Homo sapiens: one gene and its partners. The protein of the gene in region 1 purifies or fractionates together with the protein of each later gene. This does not show direct contact. Each region holds a gene or a part of one and is shown in the gene's direction. Other genes may lie near its edges.

Region 1 (5,780 bases):
GCCTCCTCTGCCTGCACCATGGCCCACTCACGCCTGGACTCTGGCATTTGTTCCTAGCTTCTCTGTTACTGGTCTCACTGCCCCTCCCCTCCTCTCCCCACCTGCTCCCAGCCAGGACTGTCTCTTAACAGTGCTGCCGAGGGAGTATGGAGTGTGAGGGGGCAGCTGAGCCAAGGAAAACGCAGAAACGCTGCAGTTGCCTAGGGGGCCATGATGTGTGGCACAGGGTGGACACTGGGGTGCCCACCAGGCACCAGGATGGTGATGAGTGTGTCCCTGTGGTGGTGCCACAGCTGGCCAGAGTGAGGAGTTTCACTTGGTGATCCAGGTGTAGCTCCTTCCTAGGCTGTTAGAGCCCATGCAGAGAGGGTGAGGCTGGGAACAGATGATCTTTGTCTGTGTCTGGGGCTCTCATTCTGGCTGCTACGTAGATCACCTGGAAGCTTAAAAAATTACCAATGCCAGGGGGCCGGGCGTAGTGGCTCATGCCTGTAATCCCAGCACTTTGGGAGGCCGAGGTGAGTGGATCACGAGGTCAGGAGTTCGAGATCAGCCTGACCAACATGGTGAAACCCCGTCTCTAAAAAAAAATACAAAAATTAGCTGGGTGCAGTGGTGTGCGCCTGTAGTCCTGGCTACTCGGGAGGCTGAGGCAGGAGAATCGTTTGAACCTGAGAAGCAGAGGTTGCAGTGAGCCGAGATCGTGCCACTGCACTCCAGCCTGGGCGACAGAGCGAGACTCAGTCTCAAAAAAAAAAAAAAAAAAAAAAGAAAAGCTACCAGTGCCTTCCTCCACACCATATTCTCATGGAATGGGCCTGGGCTGGTTGCCAAGCTCAGGAAACCCTGGGCTGAGCCTCGCCAACGTGGCAAAACCTCGTCTTTGTACAAAAAATATAAAAATGAGCTGGGCGTGGCGGCTCGTGCCTGTGGTCCCAGCTACTCGGGAGGCTGAGGCTGGAGGATCACTTGAGCCACGCGTGAGTGGAGGTTGCAGTGAGCCAAGATCACACCACTGCACTCCAGTCTGAGTGACAGAGTGAGACTCTGTCTGTCTAAAAAAAAAAAAAAAACAAAAAAAAAAAACCCCAACCTTGGGCTGGAGAGACCAGAGGGCTGGAAACAGCCCAGTGGGACGCCCTGCACTCAAGGTCCAGAAGGAGTTTGAGGCCTTAAGTTTAGTGTAGAGGCTGAAGCACGGACACATCCCACCAGACTTCCTAGTTTCAGATCATTGCTCGGGCCCTGGGACCTCGGGCCTGGTACTTAACCCCCTCTGTGCCTCAGTTGTGAATAAAATAGGGATCCTGCGTAAATGGTGATATTGTCATAAAACCACCTGTAGGGCTATTGTGAGAATTAAGTGATTATATTTGAAAAGCATGTGAAACATCAGCATGGATTAAGCACTTCATAAAGCAGCTATTGTTAGAAATTTTTAGAATTAGGCAGCTGTTCCAACCAAAAAGCTCCAGTGTTGTGGGAGGCCAGGAAGGGGAGAGCTGCACGTGGCTTTCATCAGGACCGGCTGTGGGTGCAGTTGAAAAAGGGGCACAGGCCGGCCCAGTGGTTGTTTTATTTACTTATTTAGAGACAGGGATTTTGCCATATTGCTGAGGCTAGTCTCGAACTTTTGAGCTCAAGTGATCTACCCATCTCAGCCTCCCAAAGTGCTGGGTTACAGGCATGAACCAATGCACCTGGCCCTGGCCCAGTGGTTTTGAAAGGGAGACCACTGCGGTACTTCTAGGGATACATTTCTGAAATGAGGGGCTATTTGGCAGCATAAGAATGGAAGTAGAAGGTCCAGTAAGGGACTTAAAGGGTGATCTGAAGGCATTGAGGGGATGTGAACCTAAGACAAGCCCCTGGGGCCCGAGGGGAAGCGCCTTGGCCTGGAGTGCTACCTTGGGCAGGGCAGGCTTTAGTTGTCCCCAGGAGCGGATGCGATGGGGAGGAGAGTTTGGATGGATGCAGGGGCTTCACAGTCTGTTTCATGTGTCCCCTTGATCTCTTTCAGAGACTGGGGATATTTATATCTGGGGCTGGAATGAATCAGGGCAGCTGGCCCTGCCCACCAGGAACCTGGCAGAGGATGGAGAGACTGTCGCAAGGGAAGGTGAGGGTCATCTCGGCTCCCACAGCCGTCTCCCCAGGATGTGGCTGTCATTCCTAACTCCTGGCTGTATGCTGGCCTCAGAGCTACACTGCTCAGATGGAGCATGTGAGCCCCTTATGGGAGGGAGCATTGGCAAGGCTGATGCCGGTCTTGGCACAACACACTTGTGCAGCAGTGCCAGCCCTGCCTGCAGAATGTAGGGGTTGGGAGCACCAGCTTTGGAGCTAGGCAGTCGTGTACCTCAGAGCTGTTGTGGCAATAAGTGACTGCATGAATAAGATTTAGCTCAGGGCTCAGTTGGTGTTCACATCATTATTATCATTCTGAAGCCACAGAACTGAATGAAGATGGTTCTCAGGTGAAGAGAACGGGTGGGGCTGAGGATGGAGCCCCTGCCCCCTTCATAGCTGTCCAGCCCTTCCCGGCATTACTGGATCTCCCCATGGGCTCAGATGCAGTCAAGGCCAGCTGTGGATCCCGGCACACAGCTGTGGTGACACGTGAGTGGGGCTGGGAGGCACTCTGCTCCACTCGAGCTGGTGCCTACGGAAGGGGGTGTGGTCGACGGAAAAACTTCTGTCTTAAGGCTTCTGTGGCTCATACAGAGCAGCTACCTTGCTCAGTGGATAAGCCCCAACCCCCTTGTTGTTTCACAGTAGTTCCCCAGCCTGTCAGGCCCAGAAGTTTCTTCCTTCTGGTGGGAGGCTGATGCTTTCTGTCCTCCCTGCACGGCCACAGACACATTCCCTGCCCGCCGCCGCCTCTGACAGCAGGGACTGTCCAGTCTGGCATGGAAGACTGCGGCGCTCGGTAGCATGGCACACAGGAAGATCCGCCACTTTTTCCCTCGGGATCCTCTGCCATGCCACGTGTGATCAGCCAGTTGTTAAGAGAATATGTTGTTCCATGCCAGGCAGATCTCATGAGGATTGTAATATGCTAGCTGTGGGCTGTGCCAAGCTGGGCTGGACAGATGCCTTGCCAAAGAACCGTAGTGACAACTATCGATTGTCCTTTTGCTTTCAGGAACAGGGGAGCTCTACACCTGGGGCTGGGGTAAGTAAAAGGATTGTTTTTGTGACCCTGAAACCAAGGAGAAGAAAGACCTGGGAGTACAGGGCAGGTGACAAAGCCAACAAGACTGGAGGAAGCAGGGGCCTCGGCCAGGTCACTGGGAGGAACAGGACTGCTCCCTCCCTGGGGTTGGAACAGACATAGGCGCGCTCAGTCCGAGGCCAGACAGGGGAGACATGGAGAGGATATCGGTACCACCCGCCTACCTCTCTGAAAGACTGTCTTAAGGGAGTATCCAACCAGCACTTACAAAGCAGCTTTTTGTGGATGTGACACTGGGTGGAGAAAAAGATTCGATGGAAGTGTGTGCTCTGAACATCTTAGCTTGGATAGCAGGGAAGTCTGGAGGAGCGTCTTGCCTGGAGTGGCTGGTCGCCACTAGCCTCTTGGGGATCCCCAAGGTTGCCTGGCTCTGGGTCTCTTGGATTCACAGAGCAGTGGGGCATAATCCCAGCACTTCATTTGATAGTCTGGGCCCCTTCCTGGAGGGAAAGCAGCAGCAAGACCCAGTGGAGACGATGGCAAAGGGGCTGATTTCACTTTAGGTAAATATGGACAGCTGGGCCACGAGGACACCACCAGCTTGGATCGGCCTCGCCGTGTGGAATACTTTGTAGATAAGCAACTCCAAGTAAAGGCTGTCACCTGTGGGCCGTGGAACACCTACGTGTATGCTGTGGAGAAAGGGAAGAGCTGACATGTGTACGTATATGTATATGCAACACCTGTGAGACCCCCATTCAGGTCAAGGAAAACCATTGCCTGCACCCCAAGGGCCCCATATTTGCCCCTCCCCATCACAGTCCTGCCCTTCACCCTCAAGCACGGTCCTAAACTTGTCTGCACTTTAGAAACACCTGGAGAGCATTGAAAACTCTGCTGCCTAAGGTCAGCATCAATCAAAACAATGAAATCAATGAAACAATGAAACCAGAGCTTCTAGGTGTGTGGCCTGGATAGTGGTAGATTCAAAGCTCCACCCACCTCATCCCAGGTACATTTGATGTGCAGCTGAGATTGGGGCACATTCCAGGTCATCGTCTTCTGTCAGTCATTTCCCTGCTTTCGTTTGAATTTTACCATTCTTGTATGCAGCCTTATACGACATAGTTGTGTTTGCTTTTGAGTGTTAGATAAATGGAATCCTGTGTATGTGCTTTTGTGTCGTTTTTGTCACTCAGCATTGTATAATCCATCCTTGTTGGGTCCTGGAGTTCATTTTTAATGCTATATGGTGTTCTGTTGTATGAATAATACCTCAAGTGATACAGCCTTGTTGATGGTCATTTTTATTGTTTCTGATTTTGGTCATTCCACATAATTCTTTGTGCAGTCTTCTGCACATGTGCACAAGTTCCTTTGCAGAACATTGAGTTGAATTGCTAAGTCAGGAGATACCTTTAATTTTACTAGATAACTGTTGCCCCCAGCAGGGTGGGGTCTACTGTGGCTAAAATGTCAGGTAGATGCACACTGGTTTTAATTGGCATTTCCCTGGATACTGATGAGGTTGAGTAGCTTTTCATTTGTTTTGGATGGCTGGGCATGGTGGCTCACACCTGTAGTCCCAGCACTTTGGGAGGCTAAGCAGGGAGATTGCTTGAGGCGAAGAGTTCATATGTTTATTGGCCACTTGGAGTTTTTCTGTTGTCAAGTGCCTGTTCAAGTTTTCTGGCCTTTTAAAATGTTCTGTATTTTCCTTAGTGATTTTTCTTTTGGATATTTCAGATACAAGTCTTTTGAGAGTTAGTATTCAGAGTATCTTCTGCTACAATGTAGTTTGTTTCAGTCTCTCTTGGTATTACCAATTTTAATACTTAGGTGATGCTTACTCCATGCCAGGTAAGGCTCAAAGTGCTTTACAAGTATCAACTTATTTTGATAAAATAAGCTTATCAGTAGTTTTCTTTATAGTTAAATTCTATTTGTGCATGTGTGTGTCTGTGGTTTAGCAAATGTTTCCCACCCATGGGGTCTTTTTTATTGTGGTAAAATATACTGAACATAAAATTTATGTTCAATAAAAAACAAAAATTGTTTTTAACCATTTTAAGTACATAGTTCAGTGACATTATATGCATTCACTGTTGTGCAACCGTCACCCCTATGCATTTCCAGAACTTTTTCATCATTCTATGCTGAAACTCTGTGCATTAAACACTTAACTCGTCAGTCTCCCCTTCCCCAGCCCCAGGCAACCACAGTCCTAACCTTCTGTTCCTATGATACTGTAAGTGCCTCATGTAAGTGAAATCCCATAGTATTTGTCTTTTTATGACTGGCTTATCTCACTTAGCAGCATGTCCTCCAAGTTCATCCATGATGTAGCTTATGTATCTAGACTTCCTGCCTTTTAAAGGCTAAGATTCTGTTGTATGTATACACTGCGTTTTATTCATCCGTGCATTGGTGGATATCTGAGTTGTTCACTACAGTCAATAATGTTGCTGGGAACATGGGTGTACAACTCTCTTGAGTCTCTGCTTTCAGTTCTTTTGGATATATACCCAGAGTGGAATTGCTGGATTGTGTGGTAATTCTAAATTTTTTTGAGGAACTGCCCTGTTTCCCACAGAGGCTGCATCAT
Region 2 (4,105 bases), on another chromosome or scaffold:
AACACCGAAATGTATCAGACCCCCATGGAGGTGGCGGTCTACCAGCTGCACAATTTCTCCATCTCCTTCTTCTCTTCTCTGCTTGGAGGGGATGTGGTTTCCGTTAAGCTGGACAACAGGTAACCGCTGGCCCCAGCTCCGGCGCCTCCCGAGCCGGGGCGCCGGCCGGAGCTGGGCTAGGAGCCCGGTCTCTGAGCGAGCTGTGTGCCGCCGGTCCCTGTTCCCCGCGGTGCAGCATCCTGGGAAGGGGCGGGGGGGAGGGGACGCAGGAAGGGGGGGGTCACCGCCGCTCTGGGATCCGTCATCGAAGCGTCCCTGCGGCCGCTGCGCCGTGAAAACCAGCTGCTGCAGCCGCAGAGGCAGCCGGAGGCAGAGGGGCGGCGGGCAGGACCAGACAGGGCTGGGCAGGGGGCTGGCCGAGCGCCGTGCGCCGCTTGGGAGAAGGCCGGAAGCTTACCAGCCGAGAAGGAATTCCTAGCTAGCTTCAGAGCCGGGTAGGTTTGCCTGGGACCTTGTAGGCCGGCTGTGGGGGACTCCCCGGGTCGCACAGCCCCATTGTTTGCATATTGCCCGAGCAGGCCACGGTGGCCTGCGCGCCCCAGGACTCGCAAGCAGCTCCGATCGGTTGGAACTCGGGGCGGCGGCAGCAGCGCTGAGCCGGCCTGGATGAGGAGATGCAGCTTCCTGCAGGGGCCAAGGAAGGATCTGGGGACAAACTGTCCGGAACTCTGGGCCAGGGAGGCGAGAAGGAGAGAGAGAGGAAGAGCCGAGGCAGATGGAGGACTTTGGCCACAACTGCCATGTACTCAAGAGTAGAACCGAGTGGGTAATGGGTCGCTTTGCTTTTTGTCTTGGCAGTGCCTCCGGAGCCAGCGTGGTGGCCATAGACAACAAGATCGAACAGGCCATGGTGAGTGGCATCACTGCGTCATTCTCATCCCCTGACTTAGCTGCTGCTTATGTAACTCTGGGCAGGATTGAGGGAATGGGTGAAAAAGCCCTTAGCCAAAACCCTGAGGAAGCCGACAGCCTGCCTCCTATCCGCACTGGAGGTGGAGTCTGATTAGAGTGGCACCTTTTAGGGCATTTCCAGTCTTCCCTTCCTGGGCTCCCTCCTTTCTTCCTCCCTCCTCCATCTCAGGTCTTTGCCGCAGGCTCTGACTCTCTCCTGGGCCTGTTGTTGGGCAGGGAGCTCAGACTCTTGCATTTGTGTGCATCGTGCAGCTGGCAAGGGGCTGAGCTCATTGGATGCAACAGCACTGCAGTGCCTCTGCAGAGCCTGGACTGGGGTCAGGAGTTGGGTGGAAACAGGAAGCGAAGCACCCCACCCCTGTCCCTCTCCTTACCAGGTAGAGGTCATACTCCAAGGAGCAGCCACAATGGCTGCAGAGGGTTAGGGCTTCAGCGGTTGGGAGCCACTTAATTGTGCCCTGGAGCTTAAGGACACCTTCCCTGCCCCCAGTGCAGTCATCAAATTCAGAGAGGATGCGGCAGTTCTGTACCTTTCCCCAAGGCCAATGTCCTGTGTGCTAACTGGCCGGCTGCAGGACAGCTGCAATTCAATGTGCTGGGTCATATGGAGGGGAGGAGACTCTAAAATAGCCAATTTTATTCTCTTGGTTAAGATTTGTACAGCAGACAAACAGTATGGGATGCATTGCAGGTCTACCCTTCCCCCAGATCTGGATCGGCAGCAGTAGGGGCTTATGTAAAAAGGGGGACATAGCAAACCACTGGCAAACAGCAGAAGTGTCACCCCAAAGGCCCCTCAGCAGCCAGCTTTGAAAGTCATTAGAAACTTGCAGGGGAGAACCTATCTAGTTCAAAGCTGGGCTCTCAACTCCAGCATAAGCCAAATCATGTAGCTCTCCTGAATGAGGGTTTAAGTGCTTCAGAGAAAGGTGAACGAGGAATTGGACTTGCCAGACCAGTTCACTGAGGGAAGGCTGGAGGGCCCTGGCATTAAGGACAGCACAGGCACACCAATGACAGAGCAAAGGTGCTGCAGAGGGGCCACGATGGCTAAGGAATGGCTTTGTTATGATTCCCTCATTGGCAGGATCTGGTGAAGAATCATCTGATGTATGCTGTGAGAGAGGAGGTGGAGATCCTGAAGGAGCAGATCCGAGAGCTGGTGGAGAAGAACTCCCAGCTAGAGCGTGAGAACACCCTGTTGAAGACCCTGGCAAGCCCAGAGCAGCTGGAGAAGTTCCAGTCCTGTCTGAGCCCTGAAGAGCCAGCTCCCGAATCCCCACAAGTGCCCGAGGCCCCTGGTGGTTCTGCGGTGTAAGTGGCTCTGTCCTCAGGGTGGGCAGAGCCACTAAACTTGTTTTACCTAGTTCTTTCCAGTTTGTTTTTGGCTCCCCAAGCATCATCTCACGAGGAGAACTTTACACCTAGCACAGCTGGTGCCAAGAGATGTCCTAAGGACATGGCCACCTGGGTCCACTCCAGCGACAGACCCCTGACAAGAGCAGGTCTCTGGAGGCTGAGTTGCATGGGGCCTAGTAACACCAAGCCAGTGAGCCTCTAATGCTACTGCGCCCTGGGGGCTCCCAGGGCCTGGGCAACTTAGCTGCAACTGGCAAAGGAGAAGGGTAGTTTGAGGTGTGACACCAGTTTGCTCCAGAAAGTTTAAGGGGTCTGTTTCTCATCTCCATGGACATCTTCAACAGCTTCACCTGACAACGACTGTTCCTATGAAGAAGCCACTTGTGTTTTAAGCAGAGGCAACCTCTCTCTTCTCCTCTGTTTCGTGAAGGCAGGGGACACAGATGGGAGAGATTGAGCCAAGTCAGCCTTCTGTTGGTTAATATGGTATAATGCATGGCTTTGTGCACAGCCCAGTGTGGGATTACAGCTTTGGGATGACCGCTTACAAAGTTCTGTTTGGTTAGTATTGGCATAGTTTTTCTATATAGCCATAAATGCGTATATATACCCATAGGGCTAGATCTGTATCTTAGTGTAGCGATGTATACATATACACATCCACCTACATGTTGAAGGGCCTAACCAGCCTTGGGAGTATTGACTGGTCCCTTACCTCTTATGGCTAAGTCTTTGACTGTGTTCATTTACCAAGTTGACCCAGTTTGTCTTTTAGGTTAAGTAAGACTCGAGAGTAAAGGCAAGGAGGGGGGCCAGCCTCTGAATGCGGCCACGGATGCCTTGCTGCTGCAACCCTTTCCCCAGCTGTCCACTGAAACGTGAAGTCCTGTTTTGAATGCCAAACCCACCATTCACTGGTGCTGACTACATAGAATGGGGTTGAGAGAAGATCAGTTTGGGCTTCACAGTGTCATTTGAAAACGTTTTTTGTTTTGTTTTGTAATTATTGTGGAAAACTTTCAAGTGAACAGAAGGATGGTGTCCTACTGTGGATGAGGGATGAACAAGGGGATGGCTTTGATCCAATGGAGCCTGGGAGGTGTGCCCAGAAAGCTTGTCTGTAGCGGGTTTTGTGAGAGTGAACACTTTCCACTTTTTGACACCTTATCCTGATGTATGGTTCCAGGATTTGGATTTTGATTTTCCAAATGTAGCTTGAAATTTCAATAAACTTTGCTCTGTTTTTCTAAAAATAAACTTGGTGTCTGACTGAGTATAAATGGACTGGGTGGGAGAGGCCCCTCACCCAGTAGGGGCTGTTTTGCTGACCCCCTGAATATCCCTTGAGCACCCTGTCAGTGCCAGGCCTATGCTGCAGCCGTGATCTCGTGTCATCTGCACAATACTCATATGAAGGACATGCTGTTTGCCCTCACTGTCTGGATAAAGAAACTGAGACTCAGCGAGTTTAAGTGACTTGCCCAAAGTCACATGGCTATTACGGGAATTAGGACTCAAGCCCAGATCCTTCCTCCCTCTCCTGCTCCGCTTTCATATGAGAGCTTCGGAGTGAGTGGCAAGGTGACTCATAACACACAACTGTAGCTTGAGGGGGTGATTTGGGAGGAAAGATACCCCGAGGAAGGCCCAAAAGAAACAGGCAGGGTATACATAGGAGGGAGCGAGAAGAGCGGAACCAAATCAACAGGCGTGGGCCTCTTCTGTCTTCTGAAAACATCACTGGGCTCACTTAATGCATTCTCCTTAATACCAA
Region 3 (7,038 bases), on another chromosome or scaffold:
GTAATATTCACTTTTGTTTCTGTATAAAACAGGTCAAGTCATCAGCCCACAAAGTAGCAGTAGTGGCACGGATCTGACGGGTGACAAAGCAGGGCCATCTGCACAGGAGCCTGGTAGTCAGACGCCCTTGAAGTCTATGCTTGTCATCAGTGGAGGAGAGGGCTACATCGACTTCCGAATGGGTATGTCATTGGTTCTGGGTGCTCAGTTTGCACTGTGTGCTATGACTTGGGTTTTGTCCCAAAGTAAATAAGAAACCACTCTGATAATGATTTATAAGAGGTTCTCTTTGAGCTCTTTACACACGAAAGGATTTTGTGGGTTTTTGTTTTTTGTTTTTTTCTTTTTGGTATTTCTTTCTTTTTTTTTTTTTTTTGAGATGACGTCTCACTCTGTCACCCAGGCTGGAGTGCAGTGGCATGATCTCAGCTCACTGCAATCTCTGCCTCCAGGTTCAAGTGATTCTCCTGCTTCAGCCCCCCAGGTAGCTAGAATTACAGACATGCACCACCACATCTGGCTAGTTTCTGTATTTTCAGTAGAGACAAGGTTTCACCATGTTGGCCAGGCTATTCTCAAACTCCTGACCTCAAGTGATCCGCCTGCCTCGGCCTTCCAGCTGGGATTACAAGCCCGAGCCACCGCACCCGGCCCTTGGTATTTCTTTTCATACCAAAATGTATTTGTTTGAAAGGAGCATTAGAAATAGCAGGATGTGGTCAATGTGAAGTTTTATGTGAAAAGCATAGGATTTAGGGTCAGAAGGCCTTGGACAAGTCATTCAACCTCTTAGAGCCTCGGTTTTCTGTCAAAATGGAGAAATAAAAATATTTCTTAAACAACTTCATTTGTTCATTTTCTCACCTAACAAACATTAATTGAGCACCTACTGTGTACCTGTCATTCTTAAACTGGAGATACAGAAACAAATCAGACAAAGCCTTCGTCTAATAGATTATAGAACAGTGCAGAGATAGAGACATGTTAATAAATTAAAATGTTACTGATGCTCTGGTAGTGAGTAGTCAGTTCTTTCCAAGGGTAGGGAGAGAAGGAAGTCAAGAAATGATGCTTGAGGTGACTCAGCACTGCATAGTCTTAGCACAAAGGGTCAGGTTGGGGAATGGGGTGGGGAGGACCAGGGGTTGGCACTCCGAGGTAAGAGAATAGCTTGGCCAAAGGTTTAGAGATATGAAACCATTTTAATGGAAGAAAAACTATTTTAAAATGACAAGAGTGTGGAGTAGAAGAAAGTATGAATTTGTTGTCAAAAGGGAGGGAGGGACTGGAGTATGGGAGGCCTTTACATACCAGATTAAGAAGATTGTACTTTATCTTTCAAGCAAAAGAGAACTATAGGAGCAATGTGATTAGAGTTGTGTGAAGGATGGACTGGAGGTTCAAGACTAGACCTAGGGAAATGAGTTGGGAACAAGTGAATGCCCAAGAAAGGTAGTAACAGTGTGAACAGATAAGAAGCATGATGAGAATGTGGGGAAGGAGAGAATGGGCCATAGAGCTCAGGACTGTCAACAGGAGAAGCAGGTCTGGAGGGACGGAAAGAGGAGTCCAGTGCTGATCATGTTGATCTTGAAGAGCATAGTGGTGATTTAGGTGGGAAATTTCCACTGGGCTTCTGAATATACAGGTCCTCTATCTTAGGAGGGAGGGATTTGGGGGCTGTCAGCATGGAGTGGTACTAAAAGCCATGAGGGTTGGTGAGTTCGCCCAAGGAGCTAAAAGAAAAGGTTCCAGTGGCTAAACCCAGTCTCTAATAAAAATACAAAAATTAGCTGAGCGTGATGCCGTGTACCTGTAATCCCAGCTATTCAGGAGGCTGAGGCAGGAGAATCACTTGAACCCGGGAGGTGGAGGTTGCAGTGAGCCGAGATCACACCACTGCACTCCAGCCTGGGTGACAGAGTGAGACTCCATCTCAAAAAAAGAAAAGAAAGAAAAAGGAAAGGTTCCAGGATAGAACCCTGAATTCATACTCCATTTAAAGATCATTAGAGCTTATGGAGGGATCTGAGAAGGAATGGCCAGAGAGGTACAAAGAAAACATGGAGAACTGATGCTCGTGAAAGAGTAGTGCTTTGTAAATTGTAAGACACTGTACAAATATGTTTATTTATTTGCTATAATTTTTCTTTTTTGAGACAGAGTCTCACACTCTGTCACCCAGGCTGGAGTGCAGTGGCACAATCTTGGCTCACTGCAACCTCCACCTCCCGGTTTCAAGCAATTCTCATGCCTCAGCCTCCCGAGTAGCTGGGATTTCAGGCATGTGCCACCACGCCTGGTTAATTTTTGTATTTTTAGTAGAGACGGGGTTTCACCATGTTGGCCAGGCTGGTCTCGAACTCCTGGCCTCAAACAGTCCACCTGCCTCAGCCTCCCAAAGTGCTGGGATTACAGGCATGAGGCACCGCACCCAGCTTATTTGCTATAAATAAACTGATCCCTTGGACTCGCTTAAAATCTCAGTGCTTCAAAAAGTTCCCAGACATAAGGCAGTAGGCAGTTTGAGAGAATATAATAGTGTTGTAGATCAGTAACAAATACTTTAGATATGAATTCTGTAAAGGAATAAAAAAAAATTAGGGTCATTTAAATGACAATGTGACAAATGTGATTAGTGTCACCAATATCTGATGCAAAAAGTTTGTTGACACTTTTAAGAGGGGAAGGCTGTTAGTGTGAACTTTAGAAATTGATTCCAGGGATGTCAGCAGGAATGGAGTCATTTCAAAGTGTTTTGAATAATTGACTATTGTTGAATTCCCTTTTATGAGAGGAGTTGTTAGGGACTCCACTTGGCTGGGGTGATTTTTGTAACTTTGTGTTGGAGTGCAGTATGTCAGTTGGAACCGTACTGAGGAGTTTGTTAATAAAATCTCTATGTGGTTTTTCCATTTCCACTAAAAATTCCTTCCATTGTGGATCCTGAAAATAGAACAAAAATTGCTTAACCAGGTTTGGCAGTATCTCTAGTTATTTCCAGCCTGAAAAACAGACTTGTCTTTAGCATAGGCTAATTTTAATAGTGAATATACTGTTGTAAAAAATCAAATTTGATCTTTTTTGGGGGTCCATTTCCTTTTTCATTTCCTGTAATATTTTAACAGTGAGAAATTGATTCTAAAGTCCCATATTTTTAATGATTTAAACTTAAAACTTAGGCTGTAGAGACCCTAGCAGACAGGATAATTTTCTTACAAGTAAAATCTTCAGAACAACTCAGAAGAGAAATGGCGACAGCCTTTTGTCTCAGCCAGTTAATTTTTTTCATTGAAATTTTTTAAAATTTAAGAGCCAAACTTAATTTTTTTACCTTCTAACCACCTGGGTATGTTTCAGTTCAGAGATGGGAGTTTGAACTGAGTGTTCTCCTCTCTCTAGTTTGATATTGCTGTGAAAAGGCCATTACAGGGCTGGGTAAGGGAAAGTTTGGCCTGCAGAGAAAAATGCAGATATTTAGGGTTTTTTCTCTTCTGTTGTTTCTAGTCAACAGTATCAATATTTTCTTTTGTCCAGCTGAAATTCACATGGGGCACATTACAAAATTCTGTTAGATCAGTGGAATATATCTTTAGGTCCTGTGGTGTGTATGTTTTTAGGATTCTGCTGAAGAATCCATCCCACTAGACAACTTTTCACTGGGTTGTGCCAAAATAACCCTGCTCTGTGACAACAGATACAATTGATGCAAGCTTGTATCGAGAATTATGGTATGCCCTGCACTGGGTCTTATGGAGAGGAGTGTGGTGTACCCCAGACTGGGCCTTGGAAGCCAGTGTCTGATCAGGACACCATGGATCACATTCACTTAGCCGTGATGCAGAAGAACCTGTATCTTGGCTGCTACCCCAACCTCTTTGTTTCTCCTTTTCCATTATACACTGTTAATTTGTAACCTATCCTAAACTTGAAAATCATTGGAAGAAAAACCCAGTAGCTGGTGAATCTGCCATCTGCAGTGCTGCAGGCTAATTATTTTAATTTCCATATGCTTGTGTCAATTATCTTCAATTGGAGAACATTACACCTGTCATTGATAATTGTGAGTTATTTGGGTTTAGTTAGTTTGCTCTGTACCTGTGCTCACGCATTTTATAACACTATTCTCAGTTCTTAGTTTAAAATAAGTGACAGTAGACTCTTCATTTTGGATGAACACAGAATTGCCTTCTTAGCTTCCCATGTCTGGACCATCGGTATGCAGACATGTTGGGGTGGCTTTTTAACGTAGTATAGTGAACTGGATTTTATAAATACAGTCTGAAAAATGAATTAACCTTTTCTGAAGTCAAGCAGTGGCTTGGGTGAATATGGGTGAGGATTCTGACTCTTAGTATTTCTTCTACTATTTACTCTCCAGTGAAAGTCAGACAAGTTTTGGGCATCTTGTTCATGGACTAACCACGAGCATTACATCTGACTCACATCATTCTATATTTTATGTGTTCAGCCTAACTTGAGTCTTCTTATCATTCACTAGGTGATGAAGGTGGAGAATCAGAACTTCTTGGAGAGGATCTTCCACTTGAACCTTCTGTCACCAAAGCAGAAAGGAGTCACTTGATAGTGTGGCAAGTGATGTATGGCAATGAGTGAGCCCATGGGAAACAGGTGGAGATGGGGAAGCCGTCTCTTCTGCATGGTTTATTTTCCCTCTATCCTTTTATTTAATGCTCTTTTGTGAGATAAGTTTCACCACATAATGTGTGAGCATTTTTTCCTGTTAACTTTATATTACAAAATCCGTTCTACCATAACAATACAGAGGAACTAGCTGTGTTACTGCACCAGTGTTATAGGTAACTTCAGTATATTATGAACAAATCAAAGAATGTTTACTTCCTGCAAACTGGTGAATTATAGAAAGCAATCCAGATGTGGTTTACTCTGCCACAGTCTAATGTCATTCACTTCATTTGATGGGGTCACTTGTTAGCTGTCACTAATAATGGAATTAATGGGAAACACTTGATAAATGAAACTGTACCGTTAAATACAATAGCTGAGTTTTCCCCAGTGTATTGTAAAATTGACACACACTAATACAAGATGGATTATCAGGATGTATCTAAATGTCCCGAGAGGGTTAAAAGCTAACTGTAAATTACTTTAACTTTCACTTTCAAATCTGACAAATCTTGTTTATATGGTATATAAAACTTTGTTTTCATCAGATTTGGGGGGGTTTTATATTAAAGAAATTAAGACTACACTATTTAAATAAACGTTTCCTGTTTCTGACTTATTAGAGCTCTAAAGTTTATGAGGCCTACTTCTCTGAATATTCTGATGGGTTTTTTTTGAGACCAGTCTCATTTTCATACTGACATGTCTGAAAGATTTATTATTTATAAAGCTTAGGACATACTCTGGGAAGCTTAGAAGATACTTCAGCACTGGGAGGATTTTTTAAAGGAAATGTGTTTTGTATTTCTTGTACCAGAGAATGGTGATGTTGATTGAGTTTTTTCCATGTAAAAAATGTACTTGTTTGCCAAATGTTCCTAGATTGCTCTTAACCTGTTAATACAAGTAAAACTGTAGTGGGGATGGAGTCTGGCCTAAGTACAGAATGAGGGATTTAATTAGAAAAGTTATTTTCTTTTGTTCTGTATCAAACTGCAGAACAGCTATATACTTGGTATTTTGTACGTGAATAACGTTTTAGCTTTTGTGCCCTTTTGAGCTTGAAGGGTTATCCTCAAAGGGGAAAACTATGAAGGGGAAGAAGACAAACCTAAGATACCATAAAGTAAAGGTTGACATTACATATTTTCATTCACAATGCCCATTAAAAAAAAAAAATAGGTTGGGCATGGTGGCTCACGCCTGTAATCCCAACACTTTAGGAGGCTGAGGCAGATGGATTGCTTGAGCCCAGGAGTTCAAGACCAGCCTGGGCAACATGGCGAAACCCTGTCTCTACCAAAAAAAAAAAACAAAATAAATTAACCGGGTGTGGTGGCACATGCCTGTAGTCCCAGCTACTTGGGAGGCTGAGGTGGGAGGATGACCTGGGCCCAGGAGGTGGAGGTTGCAGTGAGCCTTGATAGCACCACTGCACTCCAGCCTGGGTGACGGAGCAAGACCCTGTCTCAAAACAGACAAACAAGCAAAAAATAGATTAAAGTCTGGATTTCACTGATTTTCTTGCTTAATAAGTTTTTTAAAACCACGATGCTGCAATTTTTTCCCTCTCAAGCTTCTTGAAAATGTGTGATTTACCCTTTTTTATCTATTACTCTAGGCAAAGCTAAATATGATTTTTTTTTTTTTTTTTGAGACGGAGTCTGGCTCTGTTGCCCAGGCTGGAATGCAGTGGTGCGATCTCAGCTCACTGCAACCTCCACCTCTCAGGTTCAAGTAGTTCTCCTGCCTCAGCCTCCCAAGTAGCTGGGATTACAGGTGTGTGCCACCCTGCCCAGCTAATTTTTGTATTTTTAGTAGAGACAGGGTTTCACCACATTGGCCAGGCTGGTCTCAAACTCCTGACCTCAGATGATCTACCCGCCTTGGCCTCCCGAAGTGCTTGAATTACAGGCGTGAGCCCCCGCGCCGGTCCGAAGCAAAGCTAAATGTAATTTTATGTACTGTTTTAACAGTATAAACCTATGGGATAAAGGCCCCCAATCATCAGAAGGACTACTGAAAAGAAAAGAAAGCAAACGTAGATGTCAAATTGTCTAAACATTCTTAAGTACCACTGATTTTTTTTTTCTGGACTATTATACAAAGATGTCTGTAAAAAGTATACCAGTGGCTTTTATGCATATACACGATTAGGCTAGATTGTGAAGTACATGGGATTTCATGAGCCAGAGGAGGCATTTGGATCCATTGGGCCACATGTGACTATAAGCACATTGTGTACACAATAAAATTGTAGCCACTCATGTATTAAAACTGTTTTGGTAAAAGCTGTATTAAAAGAATAATTTTTTGCTTGAGCTACTTAGTCACTTTTTTGCAGGGCACCAAAATGTAGGCTACTTTTCCATAGCTTGTTTGCTATGTTTT
Region 4 (7,038 bases), on another chromosome or scaffold:
AGAGTGAAAAGCTGTTGCAGATTAGTTGAGATTAAAGAGCTATGATAACTAAAGGCAATGGATGATCCTTACCAAGACTTGTAGTGGTTGAGGGAAAGGGTCATAAAAGACACATTTTGCGGCCGGGCGCGGTGGCTCATGCCTGTAATCTCAGCACTTTGGGAGGTTGAGGTAGGTGGATAATTTGAGGTCAGGAGTTCGAGACCAGCCTGGCCAACATAGTGAAACTCCGTCTTTACTAAAAATACAAAAATTGGCCGGGCAGTAGTGGCCATGTGCCTGTAGTCTTAGCTACTCAGGAGGCTGAGGCAGGAGAATCGCTTGAGCCTGGGAGGCGGAGGTTGTGGGGAGCCAAGATCGCACCACTGCACTCCAGTCTGGGCCAACAGAGAAAGACCCTGTCTCAAAAAAAAAAAAAAAAAAAAAAAAAAGACACATATGGGATCAGTTGACAAAACTGCAATAAAGATAGTAGGTTAGATTACAATTATTTTTATCAGTGTTAAATTTATTGTATATAATCAGAATCATTTGCATTTTGATTATATAATAAAATATTTTTAATTTTAGGAAATACAGATATTTTGGGATAAGGGACATGAGTGTGCGACTTATTCTGAAATTATTCGAAACAAGTTTATGTCTATAGTATGTACACACATGAAAGCAGAGAAAGATGCAAGGGATCCAGAACAGAGGAGGGAGACAGGTCATACGTGAATCCAGGTAAAGGGGAATCACATATTTCACGTTATTCCTGCAAATTTGTTTTTCTGTGAATCAGGGGAAAACAAAATTCAGAAAGGTGGGTATTAGCAAGGATGTACAACAGAGGGAACTCATTACTCTAGATAAGAATGTAAATCTGTTGAAACACTTTGTAGGATAATTATGTTGTACATTTCCTAGTTCAATTGTTAGGTATATATCCTAAAGTAATTGCTGTACATGTCCCATTTGCACCAGGAAATATGTGCAATAATGTAATAGGAGCATCATTTGTAATAGCCAAAAACTGAGGAGCTATCCACTACTATTAGTGTAGGAACATTTTAATACAGCAGTGAAAATGAGTAAACTATAGCATATTGGAATGGTATACGAATATCAAAATACTGAATGAAAAAAAGCAAGTCACTGAGGGCTATAAACAGAAACACTCCATTAATATAAAGGTTAAAACTAGACAAAAGTAAACAATATATTATTTAAGGCTACATATGTGAAAAAAACCATAAAGAAAAGCAAAAGAATGATTTGTAGTTAATTCTGGGGATGGAGGGTACACAGGAGGACTTGGAAAAGCCTGGTAACATTCTGTTTCCTAAGCTGGTGTTTTCTTTAAACTATTTCTAATACTCTAGTATGTATATTTCTTAATTTAAAAAAAGTTTCAAATCAGACAAAACTCTCTAAGCCAAAAAAAAGTCCACCACAAGTCATTAAATAAAGCAAATAATAAAACAGTATGTAAGTTATTAATTTTTGTTAAGAAATTACATATGCATCTACATTTTTGTGTTTAAATGGACATACAAGTAGTTTGAGAGGATAAACACGAAAATGTGGTTTTGGGGAAGTAGGATTTCAGGAAAATTTCTGCATCACCTGTATTTTTTTTAAAATTTTGAAATCCATGAGCATTTATCAGTCAGACTCACATTATGAGATTATACTTCTTAAAATTTTTATTGATGTAAAAGAATTGTACATATTTATAGGGTTATACTTCTTTTATCTTTACTGTTGAATAAGGAGCCTAAAGGTAGGGTCCATGTTTTGTACATACTTCTCTGTATTCTTATAATAAGAATTGGAAAAAAAATAAACCAAAACAACTAAAACCAAAAAATGTGTGGGAAGTCACTAACAATGTTTAGAAATATTAAGTGAGAAAAGCAGGTTAAAAGGCAGTATTTTACATATTTAATATTAGTGCCCTTAGTACGTGTATTCTGCGTCTTAAAATGAAAATGCTCCACTGTCAATGGTTGTTTTCTCTTGGTATTGTAATCAGTCGGTAGTTTTTATTTTCTTTGTATTTTCCTTATTTGTGTGTATTACATAAGAAAGCAGAAAAAAATAGAATATTTATAATTATTAAAGATTGAAGTTCTTAGGTGCTTTCAGTAACATTATCCTCACCTTTGGGGTCGTGGCTGCCTATCTGGAGTGCTGTCTTGTTAAGGATTAAGATGAGTGGCTGAGGATTTGCACTTCTGTAAGTGGCTGCTTCATCCTTTGACACCTGCGCTGATCATTTGTGTGCGCTGCACCTCCTTCAGGTGCTGCACTATCTGGCAATCCAGAAACCTGCAGACCTTGCTCGGCACCTGTTACCTTGTGTGATTCATGCAGCTGTACTCAAGGTAAAGGAAGAAGGTAAATGTCATATTTAACTAGTCATTAGTCATTTCCAAAGTGAAAGTATATTTTGCTTAATTTATTTAATGCTGGCTTCAATCTTTTCTAAAATAGAAAGTCTCGAAAACATTTCTTCAGTTAAGAAGATCATAAAGCAGATAATATCCCATTCCAGTAAAGTTTTGCACTTCCCCAATCCAGAAGACAAGAAATTGGAAGTAAGTTTGATGTAGTGTCAGAATCTTGCCAAGTGTTCTCCTCAGTTGGCAAAAATAATTTTTAAGATGCGTTTTCAAAGGGCTTTGCTTTTTTGCCATCTCGCAATGTATGCCTCTTCCTTTTCTACCGCCAGGAAATCATTCACCAGATTACTAATGTGGAAGCTCTCATTGCCAGAGCTCGGTCACTAAAAGCCAAGTTTGGAACTGAGAAATGTGAACAGGAGGAGGAAAAGGAAGATCTTGAAAGGTAATTGCTATTTGGCTAATTCAGTTTTGTCTGCAGTAGGAAAAGCCACCACTCTCTTAAGAAAAATTGTAATAGGATATTAAGACTCTTTTGTGGTAATCATATATTATTTGAAACAAGCATTGTCTAGAGACAGAAATAATTATCATAGCATTTGACCTCTCCCGTATTTCTGAGTCTCTACCAGGTGTTTCCATTCTTCCCACTTTTAGAAACAGTCTCCCAGAGCCTCCTTTTCTAGGGATTCCTTGGTTTGCTCTTGGAGATGTGGTGTCTGGAATTTCTTGTGGAGGAGCTGTTAACTGTGTTGCTCACCCTGCCCCAAAACTTTGTTTTCAGCTGTTACTATTCCTTGACCACAGGGTGCAGGTGCTGAAACCATTTCTGCTTACTGTTCCTAGTTGTTTATTTTAAACAAGATTTGTGATAGCAAAGGTGCACATCCTATGTGCCTTGCGATTATGTTTTGAAAGATTGACCAGATGGCTTTTCTCAGATGAAGCAAATGATTGGGGCATTCTCTTTATGAGACTCGGCACCATTACCAATGGAGCTTAGATCAGTGTGAGGCCCTGTTCATTTTTTGCCCATGTTATTTGGAAGGACAATATTGTTTTAATGTGTGATAAAGTGTTCACAAATTAGCTTGTTCAGTGGCTTAAATTTGTCATCATTTAAAAATTTTCATTAGCCTTTCCATAATAAATGGCATTATTGATGCTAAATAATTAATATTGTATGGCAAGGCATTTGCTGTCTTTTAACAAGTTTGTGTTTGAATTTTATGTCTTTTGTTAGGTGAAGTTTTCTCCCACACTGCTTTGCTCTTGAAAATGTCTTCCTTTTAAATGAGAAGAATAAGCTCTAATCAAGGGACTCGTTTCTAAAATAGTAGAGTATGAATTAGTGAGCAGGTGGTGCAGGTTTGGTGGCTTTGTGCCTTCAACTCTGTTAGTTCCACCATACGTTATCTGTGACATACTTGGAAGTTCAGTGTTTCCAGCATCTAATGGCACAGTTTACAATTGCGACTTTGCCCAACACAAGTATTTTAAGCATATGTGCACGTGTGCGTGCACACACAGACACATACCCCTTAAAAAAAACAAAAACAAATATGGATCATTGCTTTTATTGGATAAATATAACTTGGTTTATATTATACAATTTTTTTTTCATCTTTTATTAACTGTAGCATTTTCTAAGCTTCTAGTCTGAAAAAAATAGACTGAATATTTTTTCTTACACTTTGACAGAGATAGGCTTTAAACATTTTTTATGAGCACAGGTGAAAAAGCAGGAAGATTGTCAGTTAAGTCGATAATAATTCCAAATGTCAATCTTATCTTGCTGTAAAATTTCACTCCAACCTTGTTGGGTTTAGCCAGTATCAGCTTGAGGATTTGTCCACAAAACTCCTGTGGGAGGATGGACGCCCAGTGGCCTGGACAGCTCACTTTCCACCCTTTCATTGCCTGTCTCTGTCTCCTAGGTTTGTGAGTTGCCTGCTGGAGCAGCCTGAAGTGTTAGTCACCGGTGCAGGAAGAGGACATGCTGGCAGGATCATTCACAAGCTGTTTGTGAATGCCCAGAGGGTATGTGAGAGTCATTATTGACTCCATCATAATCTCTCCAAACCTCTACTTGGGAAGAGGCTGTTTTAGTTCCCACACGTGGCTGATCACACTCATGTCACCTGAGTGTAAGTCTGGGCATTGGGTTTGAACACTGAAGAAACAATGACTTCTGAGTCTTCGAAATCCATTTGATTTCTTACATGTTGAATTAAAATGATAAGTATATTCTAGGACCTAAATTTTAAAAATTAGAAGAGTCCAAAATCCATTGTTATAGAAGCTGGCAGGGAGTCAGTTAGCAATGGCCAGTGCTGTGCTGTGGGAAAAAATGTTTACTCACAGGTACTTTCAAATGAGAATGGAGTTCAGTTTTACCATCTTTAAACCCCATGTAGGGCAAAGTGGAGTCACAACTCAGCTTGAATTATAAATATAATTGTTCTTGTAATGGTGAGGAGATCTACCTTTGAGGTTTCCTAGAAAAGAAGAGGAAAACTTCAGATTTTTAGGGCTGTGGAAACAGATTTCAGCACAGAAAGAAAGCCCAGTTTGAAAAATTATCATAACCATTACCTCTAGTAGTGAAAGTAAAGATTTTAAAATTATATTGTATCTTGGTTACTGGCTAAGGGCTCTGGCATCCTACAGATAATTCTCAGTTCAGGGCTCATTAATATTAGGGATTCTGATAAAGGCGTTATGTGCACTAATTACACGCTTCCCCTTATATGGCACTGTGATTACACTAGAATGACCCAGTTTTGAGAGTGTAATTTTCAGAAACAAATAAGAAAAAGAATTTCTATGTGTCTACACGTGGAATAACAACTGGATAATCCCTGTAGAGTTGGTCTGGAGTACAACTAGTTAATATATTCAAATTCATAGCCAAATACACTGATAGGAATTCTTAGCAAGAGCTAAAATCTGAGTTTGTTTATGGGGCAGCTCCCTAAACCTCAGAATTTCAAATTAATAACCAAATATTTATTTCCTTATAAATTAGACTTCTAGCAAACAATAGATGCTTGCTTTGATTTATTTTGTTTTTCTCTCTGGCATGAAAACAAGAACCGAGTTTGGTTCCACATCTGATAATATCTATCCAGTTCACTACCCAGAAGCTTACAAGCGCATTTCCTTGTTAGCTACCAATATGAATGTTCCTCATATTGCAAAAATTCTTTCCTCTTTGATCATTTTTAATAAGTGACATGTTGGCTGGGTGCGGTGGCTCACGCCTGTAACTTTGGGAGGCTGAGGTGGGTGGATCACCTGAGGTCAGGAGTTCAAGACCAGCCTGGCCAATGTGGTGAAACCCTTTCTCTACTAAAAATACAAAAATTAGCTGGGCGTGGTGGTGAGCACCTGTAATCTCAGCTACTTGGGAGGCTGAGGCAGGAGAATCACTTGAACCCGAGAGGCAGAGGTTACAGTGAGCTGAGATCATGCCACTGCACTCCGGCCTGGGTGATAAAACTCCATCTCAAAAAAAAAAAAAAAGTTATGTGTTAAGAGGATTTAAAATGTGAAGTATTTATATTTTTAGTCCTGAGATTGTTACTTATTTTAGATAACTAAGCAAAATTATTTTCCCCAAAATAGAAATAACCTCCTTACCCCCTCTACTGACTGCAAGTAAAACTTTGACAATATAGGAACTTTTATATTTATTTATTCATTTTTTAAAGAGAGGGTCTCACTCTGTGGTCCAGGCTGGAGTACAGTGGCAAGATCATAACTCACTGCAGCCTTGAACTCCTAGGTTTAAGCAATCCTCTTGCTTCAACCTCCCAAGAAGCTGGAGCCACAGGCATGCACCACCACGCCCAGTTAATTTTTATATTTTTTGTAGGGACGGGGTCTCACTTTGTTGCCCAGGCTTATCTAGAACTCCTGGTTTCAAGCAATTCTCCTTCCTTAACCTCCCAAAGTGCTGAGATTATAGGTGTGTGTGAGCTATCACACCTGGCCTAGAAAATTATAAGAAAATATTAATCACATAATCTCACTACCCATTGATGATTTAACATCTAGTATATACATATGTATATATAATTTTAAAAGTAGGGTTATATTATATAATTACTTCATTATTCTTGTTTTCCACTTAATATACTTAAGATATCTTTCAAAATCACTAAATACAGGAACATAGTATATCATCTTTCAGTAGCCTCATTGTATAGCTAACCCCCTTAATGGCTACTGAAATTGTACATCCATCTACATTATGTCATTTAAGAAAAGATTTTAAAGTTTTCAGACCTTGTAGTGAATGTTTTTAGGGAATTGGTAGACTGTGTAATACATATAACAAGCATCTGGTTGGTACATTTTTAAACTCAGTTTTAAATGTCTGGCTGAAGTAAACTGTTAGAATTTATTCATGTAACTTTTCATTAGCTGATACTTTATATCAATTTTACTAATTAGTCAAGATTTTAACACATTTTTTTAAAAAGTTGTGATGTAATTTCACTTGGTGTTTTTATAGCTTATAGTAATTCTATATATTTATAACTTTTCTTTAAAATTATAAATAGTAATAAGCCTTATCATGATTATAGGTATCTCTGGTATGTACATACTTAAATGGAATTCAGCAAATAAATGACTGACTGGATTT

The links.
Region 2: the proteins of RCCD1 (region 1) and TSC22D3 purify together in Homo sapiens (affinity purification with mass spectrometry; 2 studies listed by BioGRID and IntAct, with this or other methods). This does not show direct contact.
Region 3: the proteins of RCCD1 (region 1) and SPAG9 purify together in Homo sapiens (affinity purification with mass spectrometry; 4 studies listed by BioGRID and IntAct, with this or other methods). This does not show direct contact.
Region 4: the proteins of RCCD1 (region 1) and RAB3GAP1 purify together in Homo sapiens (affinity purification with mass spectrometry; 2 studies listed by BioGRID and IntAct, with this or other methods). This does not show direct contact.

What each region holds. Positions count from the first base shown.
Region 1 is NC_000015.10:90,957,880-90,963,659, forward strand, and holds the end of RCCD1 (RCC1 domain-containing protein 1), read left to right. Parts: intron 1-2,020; coding exon 2,021-2,119; intron 2,120-2,448; coding exon 2,449-2,619; intron 2,620-3,145; coding exon 3,146-3,175; intron 3,176-3,738; coding exon 3,739-3,890; 3' UTR 3,891-5,246; downstream 5,247-5,780. UniProt on the Homo sapiens protein: Plays a role in transcriptional repression of satellite repeats, possibly by regulating H3K36 methylation levels in centromeric regions together with KDM8.
Region 2 is NC_000023.11:107,712,704-107,716,808, reverse strand, and holds the end of TSC22D3 (TSC22 domain family protein 3), read left to right. Parts: coding exon of another isoform or gene 1-119; intron 120-300; exon of another isoform or gene 301-494; intron 495-858; coding exon 859-910; intron 911-2,059; coding exon 2,060-2,290; 3' UTR 2,291-3,588; downstream 3,589-4,105. UniProt on the Homo sapiens protein: Protects T-cells from IL2 deprivation-induced apoptosis through the inhibition of FOXO3A transcriptional activity that leads to the down-regulation of the pro-apoptotic factor BCL2L11.
Region 3 is NC_000017.11:50,963,851-50,970,888, reverse strand, and holds part of SPAG9 (C-Jun-amino-terminal kinase-interacting protein 4), read left to right. Parts: intron 1-32; coding exon 33-182; intron 183-4,501; coding exon 4,502-4,617; 3' UTR 4,618-7,038. UniProt on the Homo sapiens protein: The JNK-interacting protein (JIP) group of scaffold proteins selectively mediates JNK signaling by aggregating specific components of the MAPK cascade to form a functional JNK signaling module.
Region 4 is NC_000002.12:135,160,270-135,167,307, forward strand, and holds part of RAB3GAP1 (rab3 GTPase-activating protein catalytic subunit), read left to right. Parts: intron 1-2,285; coding exon 2,286-2,382; intron 2,383-2,478; coding exon 2,479-2,582; intron 2,583-2,716; coding exon 2,717-2,832; intron 2,833-4,324; coding exon 4,325-4,427; intron 4,428-7,038. UniProt on the Homo sapiens protein: Catalytic subunit of the Rab3 GTPase-activating (Rab3GAP) complex composed of RAB3GAP1 and RAB3GAP2, which has GTPase-activating protein (GAP) activity towards various Rab3 subfamily members (RAB3A, RAB3B, RAB3C and RAB3D), RAB5A and RAB43, and guanine nucleotide exchange factor (GEF) activity towards RAB18.